Homo sapiens: one gene and its partners. The protein of the gene in region 1 purifies or fractionates together with the protein of each later gene. This does not show direct contact. Each region holds a gene or a part of one and is shown on either strand. Other genes may lie near its edges.

Region 1 (7,000 bases):
CCTTTCTCGTCGATGGTCAGCACAGCCTTATGCACGGCCTGGAGGGGAGAGAAGCAGAGACACGTTGTAAGGCTGATCCCAGGCCTCGAGCAAGGCTCACGTGGACACCTCCCAGGAAGCGCTCACTCCCCCTGGACGGCCCTGGCCCTGCACATCCTCTCCCTCCCTGTCACATAGGCCTTGCTCCTCCTCAAGGCTTTGGCTGATGGGGCTGGCTCCCCTCTGTCCATCTTCCTGACAAGCGCCTCTCCCCCTGCTCAGGTGCACCCACAACTCAGAACAGGGAAGAGCATCGTCACTCCACGTCTGCCTCCAGGGCTCTCTCCTTTCTAGTACACGGCTTGAAGCTCCTTGAGGACACGGACCCTGGCAGTGACCTTCACAGTGCCCAGACCCCAAGATAATGCAGCCATTCATGGAACTGCAGTTGTTCATTGGTCGCCTTTAGTTTTCCAAAATAAGTGTCATCTTTAGCTGAAATCATTCATTAATTCAGACACCAAATCTCACAGATCGAAGGAGTCAGAAATTCCTTTGAAACAACTTAGCCCAAACCTTTCTGTGTCAGTATGGATAAATCAAGGCCCAATGTCTAGAAGGTCTTGGGCAAAGTTGAAATTCAGGGTCAGTGACACAACCTCAAGGGAGGCCCCGAAAGTGCCAGCTGCACAGCAGTCCCCTGCCTGGCTTTGCTGTTTGACCACGTCCCGTGTCAGTGAATCACGGGCATCTTCAGGAGCTCAGCCTGGGTCTTCATTTGTTTCCCTCGGCCCCTTCCTCAGCCTCAGGACAGAGCTGCAGCCCCCACACATTCTTCCCTACAGATACCAGGGTGCAACAAGGTCGTCAGGGTGATCTCACCTTGGAGAGCTTCAGGGGTGCCTCCTCTGTGACCCCGGAGAGGTCAGCCCCATTGCTGAAGACCTTAGTGATGCCCAGTTGACCCAGGACGCTCTTCAGATCATAGGTTCCAGTAATGGACAGTTTGGGTAAATGTAAGCTGGCAGACCTGTCGTGCAGAAAAGAAATTCAAGGCATGGCACAGCATTCCTCTTGTTCTTCTGGGACCCACCACAGTGCAAGTGTTTTCTTTTCTGATTATTTCTGCCACTTACTCCTGTGTCCTCCACCCACACTAAGATGGGAACTCGGCTTTGGTTTGTTCTACTTTTAGCTCTTCTACATTGAGTCAAAGAATGTTAACATCGAATGAATCACAAAAGCTTGAAATGCCACCTCCTCTGATATTCTAGGTGTCCTGGAAGCCTGTCTCATCTTGCCCTGTAGTGTTGGGTCACCTGGCCCCCAGCCTGTAACATCCCCAGGGCCCTACACCCAGAGAAACACGGGGCTGGTGGCAGTGCCCAGTGACAACCGTTTAGTGGATAAGAGAAGAGTGACCACACCAGGCTGAGTGCTCCTCTCTGGTTTTCCATGGGGAGACAATGCCACCCTGAGCAGGGTCTGGTGTGAGCGGGCAGCTTGGCTCTGGGCTCTCTGATCCGTTACCCTCTCAGCCTCTTTGTTCTTTCTCAACCCCTGGAGCAGAGACCTCAGGAGGTGCTGGCATGGAACAGAGAAATTCCAGCCTCGATTCCTATTATGAACCCGACACCTTTTGTATTTTCATCTTGGTTTTACAGTGTACAAAACGAACTAGATCAGCAGGGCATGGGCATAATCACGAATGCACACACATACACTAATGTGTGGCTCATGTTTAAGTATCACTTACTACAGGACACCCAATCTAACAGCACCGATAAAGTGACAGAGAAACGCAAGCCTTCTGCGAACATGGCCTGGCTGTTCCAATTCCGAACCTTGCTTTTCTGGGCCTTGCCACACAGGCTCTTCCCCCGTCCCCCCAGGGACATTCTACCCTTGAACTCCACACTCCACTGCTGCCTTTGCCAGGAAGCCCATCTGTTCCTTTTTGGTTCTGCCAGAACGTGTGGTGGTGCTGCTGTCCCTGCCCTGGGCACTGGATATTGGGAAGGGACAGTGTCCACACTGGAGTGGGAAGTCCCCAGGGACGAGACCTTTACCTCCTCACCCCTGGGTACTGTCCTCCTCATGGAGCATGGATGGCGCTGCCTGAACTCAGTGGTGGCCTCATTCTGGAAGCCAAGTTTATACAGAGTAGCAGTGACCCAGGGATGTGGGGTTCACCCTCCTCAGCCCTCTGGCCAGTCCTGATGGGCCTCAGTCCCAACATGGCTAAGAGGTGTGGGCAGCTTCTTGGTCACCCTCAGGTTGGGGAATCACCTTCTGTCTTCATTTTCCAGGAACTTGGTGATGATATCGTGGGTGAGTTCATTTTCCAGGTGCTGTAGTTTCCCCTCATCAGGCAGGAAGAAGATGGCGGTGGCATTGCCCAGGTATTTCATCAGCAGCACCCAGCTGGACAGCTTCTTACAGTGCTGGATGTTAAACATGCCTAAACGCTTCATCATAGGCACCTTCACGGTGGTCACCTGGTCCACGTGGAAGTCCTCTTCCTCGGTGTCCTTGACTTCAAAGGGTCTCTCCCATTTGCCTGGAGAGAGGGGAAGGTGGGCATCACCAGGGGTGAGTGAAGGTTTGGAAGAGTGTAGCAGAATAAAGAAACCATGAGTCCCCTCCCTGAGAAGCCCTGAGCCCCCTTGACGACACACATCCCTCGAGGCTCAGCTTCATCATCTGTAAAAGGTGCTGAAACTGACCATCCAAGCTGCCGAAAAAGATTGTGTGGGGATAATTCAAAACTAGAGGAAGATGCAGAATTTCTACATCGTGGCGATGTCAGGCTAAGAGATGCCATCGTGGCTGTGCATTTTTATTGGAATCATATGTTTATTTGAGGGTGTCTTGGATATTACAAATAAAATGTTGGAGCATCAGGCATATTTGGTACCTTCTGTCTAAGGCTCCCTGCCCCTTGTTAATTGGCAGCTCAGTTATTCATCCAGGGCAAACATTCTGCTTACTATTCCTGAGAGCTTTCCTCATCCTCTAGATTGGCAGGGGAAATGCAGATGCCTGAGCAGCCTCCCCTCTGCCATACCAACAGAGCTTCACCATCGAGGCATGCAGAGTGGACAGGGGCCTCAGGGACCCCTGATCCCAGCTTTCTCATTGGACAGAAGGAGGAGACTGGGGCTGGAGAGGGACCTGGGCCCCCACTAAGGCCACAGCAGAGCCAGGACTTTAGCTGTGCTGACTGCAGCCTGGCTGCTCTCCACTGCCCTCCTTTGCCTCAAGAGCAAGGGAGCCTCAGAGTGGAGGAAGCAGCCCCTGGCCTTGCCTCCCACCTCCCCTCCCCTATGCTGTTTTCCTGGGACAGTGGGAGCTGGCTTAGAATGCCCTGGGGCCCCCAGGACCCTGGCATTTTAACCCCTCAGGGGCAGGAAGGCAGCCTGAGATACAGAAGAGTCCATCACCTGCTGTATGCCACACACCATCCCCACAGTCTTTGTCATTTGTTTAATCCTAAAAAAACCTGACAGCAAGAATGGTATTTTGTCCATGCTAAGATGAGAAATTAGCACCTCAAAGAGGTAGAATGCATTGTTTTTGTCAAAAGCTAATTGTGTTAGAGGCAGGATTTGAACCCAGGTCTTTCAGATTGCAAAACTGATACTGATTCTGGGACACTAGAGTCGTGTAAAGTATGTTCCATGAAACTATCCCTTTATGCAGTGTATTACAATTTGTTCTATAGTTCTAAGCATTATATATTCTACATATACAGTATACACAAGGACATTAAAGGCTCTGAAAAGTTCTGCAGAGCTGTCAGTAGTTTTGACAGTTTAATCTATTATTTCCTCAAATTACTCAATGATGGAAAACATTTTAGTGTTTGTGTGTAGAAAACTGAAGAATCCACGCTGAAAAGCATTGCTATGGCCCATAATGCATTGCCAAGGAGAGTTCAAGAACTGATGGTTTGAGAATATTTTTGCTTGTTTCTATGGGAACAGCTCAGGCTGGTTGAGCAACCTTACCTTTAAAGAAGATGTAATTCACCAGAGCAAAAACTGTGTCTCTGTCAAGCTCCTTGACCAAATCCACAATTTTCCCTTGAGTACCCTTCTCCACGTAATCGTTGATCTGTTTCTTGGCCTCTTCGGTGTCCCCGAAGTTGACAGTGAAGGCTTCTGAGTGGTACAACTTTTTAACATCCTCCAAAAACTTATCCACTAGCTTCAGGCCCTCGCTGAGGAACAGGCCATTGCCGGTGGTCAGCTGGAGCTGGCTGTCTGGCTGGTTGAGGGTACGGAGGAGTTCCTGGAAGCCTTCATGGATCTGAGCCTCCGGAATCTCCGTGAGGTTGAAATTCAGGCCCTCCAGGATTTCATCGTGAGTGTCAGCCTTGGTCCCCAGGGAGAGCATTGCAAAGGCTGTAGCGATGCTCACTGGGGAGAAGAAGATATTGGTGCTGTTGGACTGGTGTGCCAGCTGGCGGTATAGGCTGAAGGCGAACTCAGCCAGGTTGGGGGTGATCTTGTTGAAGGTTGGGTGATCCTGATCATGGTGGGATGTATCTGTCTTCTGGGCAGCATCTCCCTGGGGATCCTCAGCCAGGGAGACAGGGACCAGGCAGCACAGGCCTGCCAGCAGGAGGATGCCCCACGAGACAGAAGACGGCATTGTCCTGCAAGACAGAGATGGGGGGGCCAGGCCCCGAGTCAAGGCACATGATGACTCCCAGTGATCAGGGATTGACACCACGTGGAAGTGCCTAGGGATTATTAAACCAGCCTGTGCCAAGTACTTGCCGACATCAGTAACACTGAAAGAATCAGAAGAATAGCAAAATGTACGTAGTGCTTACCATATGCCAAGCACTGTTCTCCGTGCTCACATGTGTTAATTCATTGCTTTCTTGTAACAATCCCGTGAGGTGCTAATGCTAATATCCTTCTTTTACAGATGAAGAAACCAAAGCCAGAGAGATTAGGTCAGCTATTCAATGTCACTGAGGAAGTAGCAGAACCAGAATCCTACATCTAGGTCCTGCACCCAGGCTCTGGACAGCAACACTTACATCTGCAATGACCCTAAGATGCAAATGGTACAGCCATTGTTTTACAAAAGAAGAAAATGAGGCACAAGAAGAGGAATGGGCCTGCCCACGATTATCCAGGAATCGGGCCAGATCAGAATCAAGAATCATGTCAAGCTGGAAGCCCTTGGAGGGCTTCTATCTAATCCCACTATTTAGTGGCCAGGGAAACTGCTGCACAGAAGGGAAATGCATCTTGCACAATGGCAACAGCTAGAGAGCATGGAGGGGCTGTGATTAAACCTCCTGGGAGCTGTTCCCACCCAACACTCACAAGGATCCTCAGCCCTTAGGGTTTTTTTCCCAAGAGACGGGGCTGTCCCCACAATGCTCTGTGGTCCCAGACACAAGAATAGGCTGATGCTCCTGCAGTCAGCTTACCTGCCGTCTGGGTCACTAATGGTGTCCCAGTTCTGGGCTCTTGCTGTCAGGGGCTTTAGAGACGCTCATCTCTCCTTGAAAGCAGGGGTTTGTGCTGCTTTAAAGTAGATGGAGGAGGTGGGAAGTGAAAAGACACCTCTTTTAACTTCAGATAGACCTGGGATCTAATCTGACTCTGTCACTTTCCAGGTGTATGAGCCAGGACAAGTCATTCATCTCCCTGGTCCTCATTTTGCCTCATACATAAAGTGATGTTTATGTATGAGAATTTAGTGAAATAAGTCTCAACACCAAACCTTACATCAAAAGGATCTGAGAGGGCAACTCTTTTGAGGGAGGGGTTGGCAGGTGTTGCAAATTCAAAGGCTTCAGGTGATAGGCCAGTGAGGAATACATGTTTCATACCCGGGGCTGAGACAATAGGGAGTGGTGGGGCCTGTGGCTGAACCAGCGAGAGCAGGCTCTGCCGAGCAATGGTCAAAGTCAACGTCATCCACAGCAACACAGAACCTGCCCTGCCCCACAGTGATCCTTCTACTCCAGATATGCCCAGGCTTCGGACCACCAGCCTGCAGCCCCCTAGGTAGAACCTGCCGTCTTCACAGATGGGAAAACTGAGGTCCTAGCTGAGGAGAATATGCCCGGCAGCCACATTGTTAACTACTAGTCACAAAACCAAAACCATCATCTTAACAAAATACAAAGAAAAAGGTGTCCTTGAATTTGGGAAATGAAAAACTGGAGAAAAAAAGCTGGAAATAACAAATATTGAGATTCTTCAACCCCCTTGGACTTTTAAAAGTTTCCTTCCAATAAAGCAACAAATGAAGTGCAAAGCTGGTTTCTCTCCACCACCTTTCTCCTGGCCCTCGTGCCTCTAAGTAATCCAAATGGAACAGACCACACATTACATAATACATGTTTGTATTTTTCTTCAGCTAGCTAGTGTTGTTAGAACTAAAGACGGTGCTAAAATTAGTGCTGTATATTTCCATCTCCCTTTAATTTCTCTTTCACTTCCCAACTGAACTTTGTGCAGTCCTTCATGGCTTATGGAAATTCCCCCATCATTACAGGGCTCAGTGGTCAGGAGGGAGTTGGGCCTCTGCAGGGTGGGGACACTAAATATGCTGAGTGGCCTCAGGGCCAGAGGTTGTGGCTTCTAGCCCTGGCAGGGCCATCACTATCCACTTGGCCTTTAGCAAGAATCCTCTGGTCCTGGGGCCTCACTCTCCCCAGTTGTGCAAAGTGGGGCTGGGAGAAGACTTCACTGGGGCCCTCTGTACACTAACATAGGTTTTTGGGTTTTTTTTGAGACAGAGTCTCGCTTTATCTGCCAGGGTGGAGTGCAGTGGCGTGATCTCGGCTCACTGAAACCTCCACCTCCCGGGTTCAAGAAATTCTTCTGTCTCAGCTTCCCAAATAGCTGGGATTACAGGCGTGTGCCACCACGCCTGGCTAATTTTTGTATTTTTAGTAGAGCTGAGGTTTCACCGTGTTGGCCAGGCAGGTCTTGAACTCCTGACCTCTTGATCCGCCTGCCTTGGCCTCCCAAAGTGCTGGGGTTAC
Region 2 (7,035 bases), on another chromosome or scaffold:
CTCCCTAAGTACTATGATGTAGTAATTCAAAACCTCACTAAAGAAGGAACCATTAAAGCAGCATCCTCAATTTGCACTTATATTTCTACTTGTAATCCTCCACAGTTGATAAAATTAGAAATGTATCTGAAAACTTCTGATTTATACTGGAGTCAGAAAATAGTATAATTCAAAATGAGTTTTTAAAATTCTTACAAATTAACAATAAAAACAAACATACCAACAGAAAAAATGGGCAAAGGGCTGAATATGCAATTCAAAAAGGAAATCCATGTGGTCAATAAACGTGAGAATGTTTGCTCTCACAATAATCAAAGGAAAGTATATTAGAAACTGAGATCCCGGCAGGTGTGGTGGCTCATGCCTGTAATCCCAGCACTTTGGGAGGCCGAGGAGGGTGGATCACCTGAGGTCAGGAGTTCAAGACCAGCCTGACCAACATGGCAAAACCCTATCTCTACTAAAAATACAAAATTAGCCGGGTGTGGTGGCGCATGCCTATGATCCCAGCTACTAGGGAGGCTGACGCAGGAGAATCGCTTGAACCCAGGAGGCGGAGGTTGCAGTGAGCCGAGATTGAGCCACTGCACTCAAGCCTGGGTGACAGAGCAAGAATCCGTTTCAAAAAACAGCAACGACAACAAAAACAAAACTGAGATCCCTTCTACTGCCCAAACATTAGCAGGATGGGGGTGGGGGCACAGCCTGGTATAGGGAGTCAAGAGCCCCATCAGACCATGCACACATGGAGGTGGCCTGACGAGATGTTAGCCCGAGTAGGATGGGGAGGCATCCCTGTAAGAGGGCAGCCTGGTCTGGGGAATCTGAGGGTGAGTGAGATAAGCAAGGCATCCATATGGGAGAGGTGGAGACTATCCCGAAAGACTGGTTACATATGAGGGGTAATTAGGTAGGTAAAACATTAATCATAATAAGAATCAGGTTAGGACAGATGGAAAGGGCAGATGGAAAGGAGTGGTACATTCATACAACCAAATAATATTCAGCAATAAAAAGGAACAAATTACCAATAAATACAAGAACACAGATGAGTCTCAAAAACATTATGTTGAATGAAAGAAGCCTTATACCAAAGAGTACATGCATACTGTACAATTCTACTCATGAAGTTGTAGAACATGAAAAACTAATCTACAGAGGAACAAAACCAGAATAGCAATTGCTTCTTGGGGGACAGGTACAATGATTGACAGGGAAGGACATCAGGGAACTTTCTGGTTGATGGTAATTTTCTGTCTTGATAGATACACAGATGTGTGCATTTATAAAAACTCAGTTGACACACTCAAGATTTGTGTATTTTGTTGCACATAAATACTAAACTCTAGTTACTGATATGCACACTCAAGTATACAAGGAATTAAGTATACATATAATGGCACATACATTTTGGATTGGAAAGCTAGATGTAGGGATAGGTGTGCAATAAGAATAGGGAACTATTAATTACAGAATCTATGTGGTGGCTACATGAAGCTCACTCCAATTTTTTTCTGATTTCCTATAAGTTTGTTAATTTTCATAATAAAATATTGGAGGAAACCAATAGGAAAAAAGCTAGAATGAACCATGAGGTAGTACTAGAAATGGGAGTATAGTATAAACCCATGTTTTAAAAAATACATAGATCTAAAAATATACACATGTATACATTATCATACATACATACATATAATTCCATTGCTCTGTTCACTGAGAGGATCTGGGAATAGCAACACTCCAATAGCAATGAGCACATCTAGCACCCAGATCTTGGCTTCTAAATACCATTCTCCACTTTAAAGGAACCAGGGCTCCTTGAAGAAACAGCTGATTCTAGGACTGGATCAAGGAGAGCACAGGATGAGCCTGGTATATCTTGTTGTGCCAGAAAACAATTGCAAAAAAATAAAAAAATAAAAAGTGGGGTGTAGTGGCTCACACCTGTAATCTCAGTGCTTTGGGAGGCCAAGAGACAAGAGGATCACCTGAGGACTGGAGTTCGAGACTAGCCTGGGCAACATAGAGAGACCTTGTCTCCACAAAAAAAAACATTTAAGAAAGAAAATAAGCAGAGCTTGGTGGTGTGCACCTGTAGTCCCAGCTACTCAGGAGGCTGAGGTGGGAGGATCACTTGAGCCCAGGGGCTTGAGTTAACAGTGTGCTATGATCATACCACTGCACTCCAGCCTGGGCAATGGAGTGAGACCTGTACTGCATATGTAATTTCTTGTAGGACTGAAATTGTTTCAAAACATTTTTTAAAAATCATAAACAATGAGACATCATCCTACAACTATTCAACTAGGAAAGGGTAAATAAAATGCCTTCCTTGTTTGATTAGGATGTGGGGAAATGAACAGTTATAAATGCTAGTTGAAATGTAAACCTGAACATCCATTCTGGAAGGCGTTTGGCAACAAAATAGGAATTCTACTTCTAGGAATTATCTTTTGAAAATAATCATGGATGTGTGCAGAGATTTAGCTACAAGGACATTCACCACTCCAATTACAGAAGAGAAAACCAAGCACTAACGTCAATGTCCATCAACAAGGGATTAGTATAATTACACCATATCCATACCATGGAATATCACCTGTTATAATTTTATAACACTTCAGGGTGGAAAAAACAATTATGGCATACTAAGTTTACAAGGTTACAAAAATTGTTTTTTGAGACAGGGTGCCACTCTGTCCCCCAGCCCGAAGTGCAGTGGTGCGATCTCGGCTCACTGCAGTCTCAACCCTCTGGGCTCAAGCAATCCTTCCACCTCAACCTCTCGAGTAGCTGGGATTACAAGTACATGCCACCATATGCAGCTGATTTTGGGATTTTTTGTAGAGATGGGGTTTTGCCATGTTGCCCAGGCTGGTGTCAAACTCCTGAGTTCAAGTGATCCGTCTGCCTTCACCTCTCAAAGTGCTGGGATTACAGGAATGTGTTATGTTGTCCAGGCTGGAATGCAGTGGCTATGTTAAAGGCCTAGCCCAAGAAGAGCAGTGGCTGTTCACAGGCGCAATCATAGTGTATGCAGCCTTGCCTGGCTCAGCGTTTTTTAAAAAGTACACAAAGACTGAAGAATACACATTGAAAAGTTAACAATGGTGGCCACTGCTATACCCAAGTGTCGGGATAGTGGACAATTTCACTTTCTTCTTTTTTGCTTACTATTCTACAACAAACATTTTATAACAAAAACTCACATTTTACTTCTCAATTGAGCCCTTTTTAATATGGCATCTCCCAAGGATACCAAATTCCAGAGTAGAAAGAGGTCTCATAAATCAAAGTTCTACTGCACTCCAGCCTAGGTAACAGAGTGAGACTCCATGTAAAAAAAAAAAAAAAAAAAAAAAAAAAAAAGAAAGAAAGAAATCAAAGTTCTATCTCAGGAAACTGAAGTGCAAAAAAGAAAGGACTTGCTCTATGGCTGGTCAGTGGGACAGCTACACCTGGTTTCCAGTCCAAAGCTATTTCCACTCTGCTTCACTGCTTATCTCAACCACCTGCTTGGCAGGCCACAAAGTCCACCATCAGAAACTTTCATCAGTTTTGCCCATTTTGCTACCTTACTTCACTAAACGTGGACAGCAGCTTTCATAAAACCAGCAGGCTCCTACCAGAATAGAAGTTCTAGTGGTCATCTCTAACAATTACCAGGTTACTCCCAAGATATCTTGAGCCTGTTGACGTTGGTCTTGCCACAACCCTGGCACTGTCTGCTCCTACCCAGTCCAAGTGCTCTTCAACTGTAGCCAGAATGCTCAATCTGCAAATGGTTACTGACCTGAGCTATGTGTACTAGGAGCTAGGGGAGCCAAAGAAAACACAGATCATGCCCCTGTCCTGGTTTGCCTGTAAGAGTATGTAACCTGGTGTTAAATACTCACAAAATAGATGGTGTTTTCAGAATTCTTATTCCACCAGGTTGATTGGGAAATACATCTTCCAAGAAAAAATATATGTGTCCAACTGCAATACCTAGAGTCAAGCAGAAATAAAGGATGAGGGAGAGAATTAAAATTTAGATTGCAGGTAGACCTACCAACACAAATTGCCTATATTTAGGATGAATGTCAACATAATTATTAAAAATTAATGAACTAATATTGTGGTATTTTACAATAGGTAATACGTGAAGGCCAAACAGAATAAACATGAAAAATAGTAACAAAATACTTTTACAGGTAAAATAATTTAAAAAATAGTGAGAAGAGCCTTACCCAAAAGGTCCACAATGATTGAGTTCCCCAACAACAAGGAAAATCCCATGAGCACCCAGGGCAGAAAGGGGGCCTGGAAGTTGAGAAGGCCGAAGAAGTTCATGCGGACATAGGGGTTCCTTCGGCTCCACACATAGACGAGCATTATTGTAAAGGCCTGGCCCAAGAAAACTAAGCTCACAAACAGACCAAAAAGCTAGCAGATGGCATTAAGGAAAATATCAACATTAAAAGTTTAATAGGAAAGACTGAGCAGGAGAACTAAAGATTGTGTTCTAACAGAAGTTTGAATTGGAAAAGTCAAGTTGTTACATCTTTAGAATAGAAGGAGAAACACCCAGAAAATAATTACCCAGAGCAATCAGGCAAAAATCTGCTTAGGCTAAATTATCGAGATTTACAGCTACTTCAAACAAATACTCTGCTTTCGTGAAGTTCTTGCCTCTTTGGAAAATGTGTTAATTCTTCAGTCAATAATTATATTAAAGCTTGCTCACGATTAGCACCTTTACAGAGATGAATAAAGCTAGCTGGAACAAAACCATCTTGTCAGACCGTACCATATCTAAGTCTATTGTATAGATGAAAATTCTTTTTCTGAAAAAATAATTTATTGGTTTTGGTAGCCACCAAGTAAATGTCTTACCAACTTAGTTTAAAAGTGAAGTACGCCAAGCAGTAATGATATAACTGAGTTGCTTAACAGTAACCCACCTGGGTTAAAAGTTCCTTTGACTTGCTCATCCTGTCCGACTGCTAGGTTTGGAAACTTGTCACAGAAAATGTGCTGTAAAATAAATGATAGTGCCCTGAAGCTAAGATCTAGAGAACTGTGGGAGACAGATGACAAGCTTTAGGAAGAGCCAGGGTGTTCTTCAACATTTTCCCGTGTTGTTTGTTGAAGGATACGGTCATTAAGAATCCACCAAAAAGGAACATAAATACAAAGTCTGCTGTCCGACCTCGGAAAGAGCCTTCTTCTAGCATTCGACAGTAACGATATCTTAAGTTCCAAGTTAAGAAAATATTAAGCACACGAATATGAACAAAGTAAAAATTTAATGTTATCTTGTAAGTACACTTGGATTCCATATTATTTGTAATTAGTCAAGTCTTCATTTGTATAAGAATGTTTGAGTGGTAATGTGATTACTTTTTTACCAAGCATTTGAGAAAAGGTCAAGACCAGCATCATTTTTTACAAACTGTCCCTGGCTGGGAACTAATCCAGATGACACACAGACATGCTTTCAGTCCCCTATTCTTTTTTTTTTTTCTTTTGAGACAGAGTCTCGCTCTGTCACCTAGGATGGAGTGCAATGGTGCCATATCGGCTCACTGCAAGCTCCGCCTCTCAGATTCAAGCGATTCTCCTGCCTCATTCTCCTGAGTAGCTGGGATTACAGTTGTGTGCCACCATGCCAGGCTATTTTTTGTATTTTTAGTAGAGAGCAGGTTTCACCATGTTGGCCAGGCTGGTCTCAAACTCCTGACCTCGTGATCCACTGCCTTGGCCTCCCCAAGTGCTGGGATTACAGGTGTGAGCCACCACACCCGGCCCTCCAGTCCCCTATTAAACCTTTAAAAATTTGTATTGTCTTTCCTGTGCTCAGCCACACCTTAATATGCACCATCTTTGCTTTCCCACATCCTAACTTGGAAGAAATCCGCAGCAAGAAGCCTTGTGTGCTCAACTACTTTTCCAGCCTGGCAGGTTGAGCACCTCAGTCAATAAAGATGAATTACGATGAGAAAAAACTTTAATGGAAACTTATCAGAATGATATCCTACATAGGATATAAAATGGATTCCTGCCATCCTCAGGAAGGAATGCAGCTGCAGATGAGTTGAACTGTAACTCCCTCTTAATACAGAGGGCAGGGGTGGAAGAGGAATGCCCTGCTCTGTGGCCCCAATTACCATTGGATCAGAGCTGGGGTTTTCCTTTCAACAAACCGGAACTTGACAAGCCCAGCAGACACAACCACTGTCTTTCAGCCAGTAGTTCCAGCAACCAGGACCCAAGGAGATCTCAGGTTCCCACTCCTCATGAACCCATTCCAAAACTTATGCCCAAATTCTGCTGAATTACCATTGCATTCAGGTTGTTTTACGGCTTCGAACCTGTTGGTTACTGTGGAGGTATGCCTCAGTTAAATCAATTCTCCCCTCCCTTGATCAGATTTGTAAGTAACAAAAGAGCAGAAGTGCTATCTTTTTATGGTTAAAACCTCCCATTTGAACAAAGTGACCTACAGACATTTTCAAAACATTACTACCTAAGCAACTACTTTATGTACCACTGACCCAGAAATCATAGCTAAGATGGTACCAAAAACAAGTAACAGGATGAAAAGTTTCAACTTAATTTTTTACTTCCTAAGAAAAAGTTTTGATGCTGACCCCATTTAATAAAGGATACAGAAAAATCATGTTAAATAAAAAATTGAATCCAACTGGCCCAAAAAATAAGAAGTTGGTGATTAATCTCCATATCTGTTAAAAAAAAATCAAGAGAAAGATGTATTAAGTAAAATAAATTACCAGGAAACAGTTCCATATTAATACAAAAGAAACATCCTATGACTGCGGTGGTTGAGAAGCCTTGGACAGAGTGATACTCTGTTCTGAAACAAAAACGGGGGCATATAATCTGATGTTAGATTTTTTTTGCTGCTTTTAGTTCAAAGTCTGAAAGACATCATTGGGACTGTGACATTTATAATAATAGGAAAGAAAATTTTAAATTGTGATCGTCGTATGGAGAAAGTTTGCTGGAAAGACTAGGTTAATCGGCAGAACAGAA
Region 3 (6,889 bases), on another chromosome or scaffold:
CCAACGGGCCTACCCAGCTCAGGGCACAACCCTTCCCTAATGCCATCCCCACCTCCTCAATACTTCTAAAACCCTCTTTCCAATAACACATCTGTCTCAAAGCAACCTGACCTTAACTTACGCATAACCAAACCAATGCATAACCAAACCAAAACACTCATCGGCAGCCTTCATCCTGAAATAAAGGCCAACAGCACACATGATACCACAAAGACCAGCAAGTTAAATCAACCACCACCTCACTTTGCTGGGAAGGGATTCTTAAGGTTCTCCAGAAGCGCTTTTAAGGTTCATTAAGAAAAACATTAAAATGTCATCAACTCACTCTCCAAACCGTCATATTCTCAAATGAAAGTGTTATCACAATTCCCCGTTAAACTGTTTTCAACTTCAGTCCACCTGATAAAAGGTAATCTGAGAAACAGTCTGTGAGCAGGAATAAAGGCACTTATTGGAAGTGCTCTCTCCCTTCTTGTAATACCAAGAGCACTAGTGGAAAAGCACAAATTAAGATCCAAAATATGTACACATACTATGATTGCAACTATGTAAAACATGCATAGACATATGGGTAGGAACTAGTGGCAAAAATAAATTTAAAATAGCTGGTGGGATTTTATGATATTTTTCAAACTTTAATGATGTTGATTTAAAAAGAAAAAACATCAAAGCATGATGTAGGCTGACAACAAAAAAAAGACCACAATTAAATGAAGTTTATCCCCCCCCCCAAAAAAAAAACTAAGAAAGAAAATACATTTATAGGTATAAAGTCCCCTCTAGTTAAGTGAGCCAAATAATTCATTCATTTCTTAAAATCTGGAAAGACCATGGCCGGGAGCGGTGGCTCACGCCTGTAATCCCAGCACTTTGGGAGGCCCAGGCGGGTGGATCACGAGGTCAGGAGATGAGACCATCCTGGCTAATACGGTGAAACCCCGTCTCTACTAAAAATACAAAAAATTAGCCGGGCGTGGTGGCACGAGTCTGTAGTCCCAGCTACTCGGGAGGCTGAGGCAGGAGAATCACTTTAACCACAGAGGCGGAGGTTGCAGTGAGCGGAGATCGCGCCACTGCACTCCAGCCTGGGCGACAAAGCGAGACTCCGTCTCAAAAAACAAACAAAAAATCTGGAAAGGCCAAATACTTTTTTTTCAAAATTTAATATTTTTTCTCAAAAAAATTGAGATAGAAAATACACTTATACGTATAAACGCTATGGTTAAGCAAGAAAAACTCATCGGTTTCCTAGAATTTTGAAAAGGCTCAGTCCTTTGAATTTAGCTTGGGATGTCCCCTTGCTTCGGTAGAAATCATGCTCTCAAACTGCAATTTAAAACATAAATGTGTAAATAACCACACCATTTTAAAAACCCAACTCCGTTTAGTCTATAGGCTTCCTTATCAGAACCTAAGGACTGGACTCCACTGCTTTCCTCCAGGTGAAGGAAAATGCTTGCCCCAGACGGTGCCAAGACACTGAGCAAACCAACTCCTCCACTCCCATCCAGGGGAGGGGAGTCAACTATTTGGACTAACAGGGTCTATGGCAATGCACATTCCTTCCCTACAGGTAAGAGGTCCTTAGCTGGGTGTACTGCCCTCTTGGACTTTGATGTCAACAGTGGTGACCCTTGGAGCTCAGCCTTTGCAAACAAGGCTGGTGAACAGGGAAGACTGCCTGACCTTCCCGGACAACCACGCCACCAGAGGCGGGGGATTTATAGACAGATCGTACAGGGCGATGACGTTGACAGTCAATCTGGCATCCAGTGAATTTCACCTCAAGTATCTGGACCCCAAAAGTGGGCCACATAGCTTCCCTCCCCACCACCTAACTATCCTCAGCCTAAGAAGCAGCCCCTGTGAAGGAGAGGCTGTAACCCCGTTCTGCCTCAAACTCAATGGACGGCTTTGGAGAAGTCAACTATAGGCTTTTTACATAGAAAAGACGTGGGTGTGGCAATGTGATAGAGGTGGGGGTGCGAGGTAAAGGCTTGTTCTGAGGCTGCGTTTACACGGGGGGCATGATGGAGATTTCATTTAGAGTTTATGCTCATCCGGAGGAAGGGGTCGGATGGAAGTGGAAAGCCCTCCAAGCCAGCCCTTGGCACTGCCACTGTCCCTTCTGGTCCTGGACCTCAGTATCCTCACGCGTAAGACACTGAGCTGGACAGCAGTTCTGAAGTTTGGAGATTCCGGGAGAATCAGGAGAGGAAGGCCACCGGCCCACCCCGCACCCTCAAGCTCGGGGGTCTTCACAGGGACTCACACGGGACAGGGCGCGGGAGCGCTGCCCGGGACCCTAACGGCCCTGGCGCCCTCGGGGGCCCCGGAGGACAGAGGGCTGCACCCCGGCGCGGAGGGCGGAAGGAAGCGCGTGGGCGCGCGGCCCCGGGCGGCGGGGGCTACTCACGGGTCCCCGCGGTCGGGCCCACGGCCGCGGCAGTGGATGGGGTTGAGCTCGTCCTGGGGGAAGGCGTGAGCCATGTAGTTGTCGTAGCCAAAGACGAACATGCCCCGTGCCAGGTCGCGCATCTGGGCACGCAGCTGCGGAGGGAAGGCGCCGCTGTAGCGCTTCTCGTACTCGTCCGGGCCGCGGCCCCGGCCGCCCAGCACGTAGCCCCAGTTGGCTGGGCCGCACATCCCCGGCCCAGGACGCCGCGGAGCCTTGCGCGGGCTCTGCGCTGCCCCGGTCCCCGGCGGCTGCAGCCACGACGGCCCGGATACCCCCCCAGGCCGGCCCACGGGCCCCGAGGTGGGCGACGCGGGGCCGTCGGGGCTCCTCAGACGCTGGAAGCCGAAGCTGAGCGGAAAGCGCTGGTAGAAGCCCATGCTGGGCCCCAGCCCGAAGACGAGCCACAATACTCCATGGAGGCCAAGCCGGAGGAGCACCAGCCCCAGGACGAGCGCTCGCCATTGCATGGTCGCGCGGGCGCCGCGGGCATTATTTTAAAGCGCGGGGGCCTCCCCGCCGACCACCGCACCCCGCGCTCGCCCCGTAGCCCGGCTCGCTTCCCCTTTAAGGAACTCCCCCGTGACGCACCAGGAACTAGCCCATCGTCCCCAACCCCCAGGCTCTCCGGCGGGCCGGCCAGGCCCCACGGTCGCCCGCCCAGTGGCCCGGGATTGGCCCGGCCTGGGCCCGGCCTCGCGGGGCGCGGCCCAGGACTCCCTCCCACGCAGTAGGCCGCCAGGACGTCCGCGACGCCCCGAGGCCCCGCCCCTCACCCGGGCCCCGCCCCAACTCCCAAGCCCCGCCCCCCTGGGCGGTCCGTAGCCCGATGGGCTGGCGTGGCGAGCAGGAGCCGCGCCGGCCCGCGAGGGAACTTCCAGCCAATGGGAGAGCGGCACGGCAGCGCCCGCCGGACGCTGGACACAGACGTGACCCCAGACCGCCTGGCCTTGGGTGGATCGGGTCTCTGGGCAGAGCGTGTGTCCGGCAGAGCTAGGACCGGAAAAAGCCACTCTAGGTCTAGGTTAGGAGTGATGACAGTTAAAAGATATATAAGGAAAAGAAGGAAAGGATCGTTTCTGTATAAAACGAGCTATTTTTGCATATCGAGCGCATAAGTTTTATAACTTAGGTGTCTGTTTATGGAGAGGGTGGGATACTACCTTTTAGCTCAAGGAGTGCACAAAACGGTATCATGAATTCTGCTCTTTTGATTCAAACACCCAACTTTGAAGAATCGCTCATGGTGCTTGTAAAACACGTATCCCCAGATCCCTCCCTAGACCTATCGAACAACTCCAACGGTCTCGGGAATGTGCGTGTAAGTACTCTTGGACAGTTCTTAGAAACTGGAAGTTTCAGGAAATACAAAGTTATGTTATATTGCTTTTGTCTCGGAAATAGGATTTTTTTAAAAGGGGGGGGCGGGTTGGGGGTGGGAATGAAGGCTCCCACCACCACCAAATTATTTACCAGATATATCTAAACATGTCTTCTCCTGTCCCTCCCATCCTACCATCTCTCCTGTGCACCCGCAATTAGTGACCTAACCTTTGAGGTGTGGGGTAGATTCCCAGTTAAATAACTTTACCCCTCTGTATCTACTTCCTATAATTAAGAAGATTGCAAATGTTAGCTCTAAAGGGCTATGGCTTTCACATAAAGATTCAATGGTTTAGGCGCTTATTTATTTTGCTTGCTGCATTTGGAGTTGGCTGTAAGTTTTGCCCTCCCTAAGTTTAGACCCTATGCCTGTTTCATCAGGGTTTCTGAAAAGCTTGGGAAGCAAGACCTGACTAGACCCCCAAATCTGATATTGGCTGAATGGCCGACCAATGGAGTGCATAAGAAGGTAAGTTGTCATGTGGCACTCTCATCACATTTTCAGGGTAGAGGACTTTCTGAAATACAGAGGAGGTGTAAGGGGAACTAAGAAAACACTTGATTACAGCACATGGTAGCTGGCACATAGGAAGGTCCTTACTGTTGGCTGAGCCTTGTTCTTTCCCAACATTGAGACATCGAGAGCAGCCCAAGCAGCAAAAAGATTACGAAGACAGCTTGAGCCAGGGTCTTTAGACTACACAGCTTCTGCTTTTTCCCCTCTGTGAAGGATGCCTAGGGACTGTGCTGGCAGCCCAGCTCCAGCCCTTGATCCTGAACTTCTGCCTTCCTGGAACTTGCAAACTGAATGTGAATATTCAGTTGCATGTTGCATGTTTCCTTCCGGGGCTACTTTATTGCAAATTTTAACTTAAATTTGACCTGGTTAACTGCAGGCCACATTGAGGACAGCTTCTGTCTTGATGTTAGAGAAAAACTCTTATAAAAATAAATCTTTTAATAACCAGAGAAAACCATCCAACTCCTGAAAGATGCTTTTCATAGTAAAACTGATGGTTTTCAAAACACTTTGACATGTGTGCTTATTTAATCTTCATAGAAAACTGTAAAGCTTATTCCACAAGCCATAATGGAAGAAATCAGGTTGGGGGCTCAATTCTCAGAGCCTGTTGGCTCTAGGCAGAAAGGGAGTTACTACACTTTAGGGCAATTTGCACTTCAAATAGCTGGCCCTTGAGCAGACAGGTCCCTCTGCTCTTTCCAAGCCACCCAAAAGCAATAGTTTTGACATTAGTGCCCTGCAAGGCATAGCCTAGGCATTAGGGTCTAGGTTCAGAAAGTGTTTCCTTCTGGAATGAAACTGAAATGAAAGAAATGGGTTATTTTGTGCTAGTCCTTTCGATTAGGACTCTCCTTAAGCTAAATGTACTGATAAGATTGGGACAACACCCATACCCAATCAGAAAACTCCAGTCTTGAAAATCAACTCTTTAAGATAAACAGTTTGATTTGTGACAGGTTTTCCGGTAATCTCACAAGCGCATCAGGGACTGATAAAAAAGGAAAGGAGGCACTTTTTCAGTGTAAAAATGGCTTTACTCTGGGGAATGCAAAGAGATGACAACTAAGAACTCACATTCAGAAGTCAGGTGTTCAAATCGTAGCTCTGCCCTAAGAGTGACCTTGGGAAGTTACTTTTCTAGGACTTGTTTCCTCATCCATAAAATGGGTGAGTGATGAGGACAATGTTTATCACAGTTGTGATTACATCATATATATATATAAAGTACTTACAACCGTGCTACATAGTGAGACCTATTAATACTTTTCAACTCTGAAACTTTTAAAACTAGCACCCGGCTGGGCGTGGTGGCTCACACCTGTAATCCCAGAACTTTGGGAGGCCAAGGCAGGCAGATCACTTAAGGTCCGGAGTTCAAGACCAACCTGGCCAAAATGATGAAACCCCATCTCTACTAAAAATACAACTACCCGGGCGTGGTGGTGGGCGTCTGTAATCCCAGATACTCAGGAGGCTGAGGCACGAGAATCACTTGAATCCAGGAGGCAGAGGTTGCAGTGAGCTGAGATAGCGCCACCACACTCCATTCTGGGCAAGAGAGTGAGACTGCGTCTCAAAAAAAAAAAAGTATTTCAAAAGCAGAGGTTTTGCAAAGCTGAAGGCCTAAAAAAAAGTATATAATTACAGTTCAAACTTATTTGATGGGCACAAATCCAAGTTTGTCAACATGCTCTGTTAGCAAGATACAGGATACTCGAGAGGCTGAGGCAGGAAGATCCCCTGAGCCAGTAGTTTGAAGCTGCGTTTCCTATGATCGTGGCTGTAAATAGCCAATGCAATTACCTGGGTAACAGTGAGACTTCATCTCTTTTTTAAAAAGGCATAGGGGACTGGGACTGGTAAAAACAAAAACTAGTACTTCCCGTGTGAAGGGTCATTTGGCAATTCCTAGTGTCAGAAAAAAATTACAACAAATTTACTTACAGATCTAACTGGCGTTTATTCATAACTTATGAATGGGGCAGCCTCCATTCTACAAAACAGAATGAAAGCTCCCAATGAGAAACAGCAGAATAGTGGGTTTTGTAAGATGAGAGCAAGGAAACAAAACAATGAAAAATAACTGATTGGTTAACATCGGGTTACTTTTTTTTTAAGGGTTAAAGAAGAAGGGACTTCCTTATTATTCTGATTCAGACAGACTGGGATTTTCTGTTTTCAGGAAAAACTGGTCTGTAAAGTTTCCATGTAACTGTGTGGCACTTAATATATGTAACTACTTTGGTCTGCTAGGACCTAGTGCAGAAACTCAGTCCACAAACAATGACCCCCCATAATTTTGGTTTAACGTTAGCACAAGTCGCCAGGCGCGGTGGCTCACGCCGGTAATCCCAGCACTTTGGGAGGCTGAGGCGGGTGGATCACTTGAGGTCAGAGTTCAAGACTAGCCTGGCCAACATGGTGAAACCCCATCTGCACTAAAACTACAAAAATCAGCTTGGCATAGTGGCACATGCCCGTAGTCCCAGCTACTTGGGAGGCTGAGGTAGGAGAATTGCTTGAACCCA
Region 4 (7,035 bases), on another chromosome or scaffold:
CCGTTCTTCGACAGCCTTTTGCCTCACTGACAGAACGGTCACACGACTATTACATGCTTCTGGGTGTGTGCGCGTCTCCTCTCAGATCGTCAAAATCCTGCTCTCCTACCCCCACCTTTAGGAATATGGCAGCTAGCTTTACTTACCGAGAACCCGCTACTGTGCTTCCCAACAGTGTATCTTACCTCATGCAGTCCTGTGAGACAGGGGCTTCTCCCACAATTTACAGGCTTGCAAACTGAAGCTTGGAGGTTTGATTAAGTAACTTTCCCAGTATAAAAACTGCTATCTGAGGGGACTGGGATTCAAATCCAAGTTTGTCTCAAAAATCAAAGCTGTTGCCCTTACCAGCCCACTTCAGTAAACCCTAAAAGCAGATAAAGAGCACAAACTCCCAGGGGGTTGGGCCTATACAAACCTCAAGTCTCTCATTTTAACTCTGAACAGTCCTGTAAAATGTCTACTCCATAGTATTTAATATAAAAATGTTTAAAATTGCTGACCAACACGCTAACTTACCCTTCCTTGGGCAAAATCATGGGTAAAAACTGATGGGCCAAGAAAAGACACCCCACTAACCTGTGACTCTGCCCATTCACCAGCCTACTGTTTCGCACTCTGGAGTTGCATCAGGTCCCTCAGCAGGCTCAGAGAGCTGAGATGCCTCCTGTAATGTTGGAATCTAGTTGTCAGTGGTCCCTGGCTAAAAGAGTAACAGGAAGGCAACTGAGCCTAAGCTTTAATCCCTAACTTCCTGTGACTGTGTGACTAGGGTAAGTCACTTGTTGCCTCAGGTTTCTCCAGCAGATGGGGCATAGGGGTAAATCATACTCCTCATGGAGCTCTCATTAGGATGCACTAAGAACACAGGCAGTAAAATGTTAGATGAGACAGGACAAAAACACTTACAAAAACTGAGGTGTGGATAGAAAATTTCTTCCTCCCAAGTCCATTGGGTATCTGAACATTAGGAAAAAATAAAGATGTCCAACCAGATTTCCAATAAGCTCATTGATTACCCTGCAAAGAGAGCCAAATGAGTTTAAAGACATTCAAGCAATAGAGATGCACCAAGTTTTAACTAATAGCATAAGGAAGAGAGCCTTCAAGGCAGCCCATTTAGTCCCTGGGAGTCTGTGAGAGCTGACAATGAGCACTTTTGTAGTCTGAGTGGCAAATGCATTCTGAGGGAGACGGGAAATCAGTCCTGCTGAACCAATGAGGCCTGCCACTCTTCAAGGCCAGCAGCCCCTCTGACCTCTCTTTCAAGCACCAGCCCATCCTCAAAATATTGTTTTTGCTACTTCCTGCCTCAAGAGTTGGGGAAGTTGCAAAGCATGCTTCTGAATGCTTTCAGTCATGAATATTGTATTTATAAAATGTGGGCAAACATGAAGGCTACCAAGAGAGAAGCGTGGGAGTAAGGAAAAGAGGAACAATAAATGCCTGTTCCCCCTTTCCTGGAGCCATTAAGCACTTCTCCCTTGCCTCTTGTATCCTTGAGTGTAAGACACCACAGAGATCACTTAGGAAAGCCGACTTGCACCCTGAAATCAACGCTGACCTTCTTCAGTTTTCCCTTGGCTTACATACAGGTCACCTCAAGAGTGTATAGATCTACTGTTACTATTACAAATCCTCTTTGTCTTCACCTGCAACATGATTCCCGTCAGGGGCAAATCAACACCTGCAACTACTTCAGACTTCACCTTCCTGGGTGGAAGAGCAGCTTTGCCAAGTTCAGAACATGCTTTGCTCTAAACAGTCTGCTCCATCCATTCACTTCTCCCCAGCAATATGCAGAAGAAGTTAGGATCACACAGAGCAAATATGTCAGACACATGAAGAACCAGCAATATAAAAATGGATTGAAATATTAAAAGTAGTTTGTAGTATAAGAAATGGGAGTTCTGGCTGGGTGCAGTGGCTCATGCCTGCAATCCCAGCACTTTGGGAGGCCAAGGTGAGCGGATCATTTGAGGTCAGAAGTTTGAGACCAGCCTGGGCAACACAGCGAAACCTCATCTCTACAAAAAATACAAAAATTAGCTGGGTGTGGTGGTGCACACCTGTAATCCCATCTACTCGGGAAGCTGAGGCATGAGAATTGCTTGAACCTGGGAAGCAGAGGTTGCAGTGAGCCAAGATCACGCCACTGCACTCCAACCTCGGTGACAGAGCCAGACCCCATCTTGAAAAAATAAATAAGTAAATAAATAAACAGAAAAAATGAAGAAATGGGAGTTCTTAGAGAAGTTGCATCTTGGTATCCTCCCTTTAAAATTCTGACTGGATAAATTAAAGCTATTCCTATGTCTAGCTCTAATTCCTGACCAATAGACTAGATATTTGACCCTGGTTGGCCAAAAGTTCTGTATTATCATCCAGGCATGGTGGCTCATGCCTGAAATCCCAGCACTTTAGGAGGCCAAGGCAGGCAGATCATTTGAGGTCAGGAGTTTGAGACCAGCCTGGCAAACATGGCAAAACCCCATCTCTACTAAAAATCCCAAAAAAAAAAAAAAAAAAAAATAGCCGGGCATGGAGGCGGGCGCCTGTAATCCCAGCTACTCGGGAGGCTGAGGTAGGAGAATTGCTTGAACCCATGAGGCAGAGGTTACAATGAGCCAAGATCGCACCATTGCACTCCAGCCTGGGCAACAAAAGTGAAACTTCGTCTCAAAAAAAAAAAAAAAAAAGTTCTGTATCATCAAACCACTTGCAAAATTATATCCTATCTAAGAATCTGGATTTCTATGACCGATAGGCAGTTTCCAAGGCATTCTGGAAATGCCTTAAGAATATAAGACATAGTAATTTTATACATAGCTCTTAGAGGAGCCAACTCAGACAAAAATTAGGTCTCTGTTTGCCCAATCAGAATAGTGAATCCAGAAATACATATTTATTCCTGTACTATACACATAGGAACATACTGTGTGTAACAATAAGTTAACAAAATCACAACCATTCAAGGTTAAATATGCTTAAAGCCCTGCAATCTAATCAATTCAATCGAAGTGAAATTATTCCATAAATATAGGGTTCTAATGCGTCAATGTTGAGATTCTTTAAAGTTGTATAAAGGTTAGAGAAAGATAAAAACTAATGGAAATTTTCCAAGGATTAGTTTCCAATTAAATAAATCTAATATCACTTACGAGCCTCCGATGATATAGTTGAATCCAAGGATAACCCAGGGTAAATAGCAGGCCTAGGATGGAATGAATATATGCAAATGTGAGTAGCCACACCTGACGAGGACACAGCTACTACGGGGACTAAAGTGGGTAAGGATACACTGACAAGGGCTTTATATAAATCCTCTGGAAGGTCACTGCAAAATTTCTAGGATCAATCTAGCATTATTCCCACTATACTTAAACCTTCCTATCTAAAACTAGACTTAATTGTGTATTTGTAACTGGAAGGACACAGTACTTTGCCCACAGGTCTGATGCAATACAGGCCCTGCTGAACTGCTATAAACAGACAGCTTCAAAAAGCAGATGAGTGTCCTACAGATGCTACTAAAAGCAAGGCCCATGAGAGAATCACACTAAGATTCCAGCCAACAAATTGCTACAAATAAAATAAACATACCCCATCTTTTTAGGTTCTTCTTTTACATATCTTGCAAAATTCCTCTGAATTTTTATCTCATTATGCATTGATATCTTAAACTAATACTCTCCCAAATAAGAAAGCTCTCCAGATGAACTCAACATTTGAGCCCCTTACCAAATCCAAGACATCATACCAAGAGCTAAAGGAGTTGCAAGAAACTTCACAAACTAGGAAAGAGAGGGTTATACTCAAATAACTTTACAGCTACATGTGCTAAGTACTAAAGAGAAACACAAAGTATTGAAAAAGCCCAAACGTAAGACTAATTCTAGGCAGGAGATTCAGGAAATATGTTCAGTTCCAACTCAAATTAAGAATGGGTAGGATTTATACAAAGAAGAGAATCAAGATGTTACAGGTGGAAAATTGTGAAAGAATGTACAAAGAGAAGTGTTTGGGGGCAAAAACAATCTGTTTCAGCTACAGTATAAAGCAAATAACAGGGAACGAGGGAGGGATAAGAACAGATTTTTAAAGCAGGGTTTCACATGAGTTATCTCTCCTTCTCTCTAACACAGACACATAAGATCACTCAGGGACATAACCTTGAGGGGCCCGAGGTACAGAGGGAGTGAAGAAACAAAGGCCAGCAACGGACTCCAGGCTGGCTAATTAAATAGAGCTGGGATTGAGGAGGGCAGAAAGGGGCTTGCCTATGGTACACTGCTCTGCAGTGACCCCTTCTGGATGAGTCAGAAAGTACATCTCTGGACTGAAGAGGGATTTCTGCAGACAAATGAAAAGGACACTTTTCCAACCAAGGCAAAGTACCTTAAATCGTGTTCCAAACCAAAATGATACAATCATGTCTCTGTTCAGCTGGGCCCAGACATAAAGTACTGACATGATCAGAGGAATCATCAGCAACTGCAAAAGAAGTCGACATGTAAAAACCAGGCTCCAGAGGCACTTAAAAAAGGTGTACATCTACTATGCTTTTTACCCCTCCTCTTCACAACAATCCTCACCTGGGTAAAGGGAAACTCAACTGATCAGAATTATAAATTGATCCTATTATTTATCATACAATAAATATTACAAAATCCTATAATAAAATACAACAAAACTATATTATTTTAGATGGATTCAGAAATGTAAGAGTCAAGCTCTGTTATTTACAAAAAGTAAGCAACAAAGCATTACCATATAATCTCAATTTTTAAAAAACATCCATATACATGCCTAGAAAATACTAGACAACCACTGTTGTCACATGCCTAGAAAATACTAGACAACCATTATTGTCAATGTTCAAACACCAAAAAGAGGCCAGAAATGAGCAAGGAAAGCAATGATTTAGATAGCTCATGTAAGATCTTCAAAGATTTAGCTGACTTAAGATCCTCAAAATAAAACAGCTATAGGCCAGGCACGGTGGCTCATGCCTGTAATCCCAGCACTTTGGGAGGCCGAGGCAGGCGGATCATGAGGTCAGGAGTTCAAGACCAGCCTGGTGACATGGTGAAACCCCATCTCTACTAAAAATACAAAAATTAGCCGGGTGTGGTGGCGTGCATCTATAATCCCAGCTACACGGGAAGCTGAGGCAGGAAAATCACTTGAACCCGGGAGGCGGAGGTTGCAGTGAGCCAAGATCAAGCCACTGCACTCCAGCCTGAGCAACACAGCAAGACTCCATCTCATAAATAAATAAATAAATAAAACAGCTGTAATTCCATAATTTCAAAATACCACATAATTAACCCCATAGTTAATGCAATTTCAACTTCTGACAAAGGCCACTAATAGTATATTTGAAACAAATAAAAGGGCAAATAGATAGTTTAAATGGACACTTACCTGCATATCCATTGCTAAGCCAGTAATCTTGGTTTGTAAAGTTAAAGATCAGACATAAAAAAGCATTCTGTACCTAGTCAAGACTGATGTGGTTATTTTCCTCCCATTTAAAAGTTCACTTGGCCAGGTGTAATTTGGCTCATGCTTGTAATCTCTGTACTTTGGAAGGCCAAGATGGGAGGACTGCTTGAGGCCAGGAGCTCCAGACCAGCCTGGGCAACATAGCAAGACCCCATCTCTAATTTATATACATATTTTTTTAATTAAAAAAATTTTTAAGTTAATTCCAGTGTTCTGAAGGAAAATACTTTTCTATAGTTCAGATTGCTTAAAACATTCTACAACACAAAGGTATCTAATCTTCATTATGCATATTCCATTAGACGATACCATGACAAGGACATAGTAGAAATCAACAGCTTCCGCATATGACTTAGTCTGGTCATCTGGCATCCTTTTTCTCTGCTATTGCATTTTAACATCTCTCCTTCAAATAAAGGATGAAGATGCCTGTAGCCTTTGAAGGAAATAATCATTCTACTTACATTCTCAGGACTCTATAGCATGGTTAAAGTCCAAAATATTTTTTCCTTCCCTCAAAGGAGGGGGGAAAGGGCATCCACAGTGCCACATTTTCTGGCCCTCAGCCAAGTTTAAATGGCAGCTGAGCCCAAAGGCAATTTTGAGCTCACCAATTTTGCACAGGACCTGAGACATCGAGAGCTGCTGCTGCTCTCACCATCTGTAAGAGTCCTGCAGTTGGAGGGCTGCTGACAACTGCTATTGATACAAAGCAGAGAAACGTACTGTGTCCCTTCCCAGAGCTGGGTACTTCACAGAGGGACTGAATTACTATGTAGGACCCCAAGAGAAGGACAGCAATGAAGTCAGAAAAGGATGCTGGTTGTAAATTAATTTTCTGATAAGGACCACAGATTTCAAAAGCTGTCTCATGGCACGGACTCTCTTTGTGCCTCAGTCAACAAGCTGTCACACATGAGAACACAGAGAACTGGGAACAAGAAGAGGGAACAGTCATAAAACTACTCAACCAAAGGTGGAAAAAAATCCCACAAATGGTAAGAGAATGCATCACTCAAGGGCTATATGATTTACTACAGTTTTTTTTAAAAAACTATAATTATTCTTATTAACGGTAGTCAACCAAGATGCAAATATTGTAATTTGAAACGTTTACAGAATATGGTCTATTTCCCCAAACCTGGAAAAAAACTGGTTTATTTCTGGCCCAAAATCACAGACTGAAGGATACCACGATGCAAATCCAGTTAAAGAGGAGCATGAATAAATAGTCTGCTGGCCTCCCATCAAAAGCTCCTGGAAACAAAAACAAGCCAAATGTCATGGTTCAGAATTTCACAACAAAGTAACATCTACATAGAGAAACACTTCAAAAAGTTACAGAAAAAGCCAAAATGAGAACATTTTAAAAACCACTCCTCTCTAAAAAAGTGAATTTTTAAAAATATCTAAACAACGTCCCCAATAAAGCCCTGAATCAAAGTTACCTGAGTAAGGTTAATCTATGCTCTCCTAACTGAATTCCAGTAAGTGACATGCTCTGACTACCACAGGCTAAAACAGACC

What was found.
Region 2: the proteins of SERPINA1 (region 1) and DERL2 purify together in Homo sapiens (affinity purification with western blotting; 3 studies listed by BioGRID). This does not show direct contact.
Region 3: the proteins of SERPINA1 (region 1) and EDEM1 purify together in Homo sapiens (affinity purification with western blotting; 2 studies listed by BioGRID). This does not show direct contact.
Region 4: the proteins of SERPINA1 (region 1) and DERL1 purify together in Homo sapiens (affinity purification with western blotting; 4 studies listed by BioGRID). This does not show direct contact.

The regions. Positions count from the first base shown.
Region 1 is NC_000014.9:94,378,603-94,385,602, forward strand, and holds part of SERPINA1 (alpha-1-antitrypsin precursor), read right to left. Parts: intron 4,778-7,000; exon of another isoform or gene 4,640-4,777; 5' UTR 4,636-4,639; coding exon 3,990-4,635; intron 2,540-3,989; coding exon 2,269-2,539; intron 1,010-2,268; coding exon 862-1,009; intron 39-861; coding exon 1-38.
Region 2 is NC_000017.11:5,476,158-5,483,192, forward strand, and holds part of DERL2 (derlin-2), read right to left. Parts: intron 6,726-7,035; coding exon 6,652-6,725; intron 5,233-6,651; coding exon 5,139-5,232; intron 4,986-5,138; coding exon of another isoform or gene 4,944-4,985; intron 4,426-4,943; coding exon 4,230-4,425; intron 3,988-4,229; coding exon 3,897-3,987; intron 1,843-3,896; coding exon of another isoform or gene 1,800-1,842; exon of another isoform or gene 1,692-1,799; intron 1-1,691.
Region 3 is NC_000003.12:5,183,842-5,190,730, reverse strand, and holds the start of EDEM1 (ER degradation-enhancing alpha-mannosidase-like protein 1), read right to left. Parts: upstream 3,025-6,889; 5' UTR 2,926-3,024; coding exon 2,417-2,925; intron 2,411-2,416; exon of another isoform or gene 1-2,410. UniProt on the Homo sapiens protein: Extracts misfolded glycoproteins, but not glycoproteins undergoing productive folding, from the calnexin cycle.
Region 4 is NC_000008.11:123,018,286-123,025,320, forward strand, and holds part of DERL1 (derlin-1), read right to left. Parts: intron 6,766-7,035; coding exon 6,701-6,765; intron 5,455-6,700; coding exon 5,428-5,454; intron 4,495-5,427; coding exon 4,399-4,494; intron 3,215-4,398; coding exon 3,162-3,214; intron 1,021-3,161; coding exon 910-1,020; intron 1-909. UniProt on the Homo sapiens protein: Functional component of endoplasmic reticulum-associated degradation (ERAD) for misfolded lumenal proteins. Forms homotetramers which encircle a large channel traversing the endoplasmic reticulum (ER) membrane.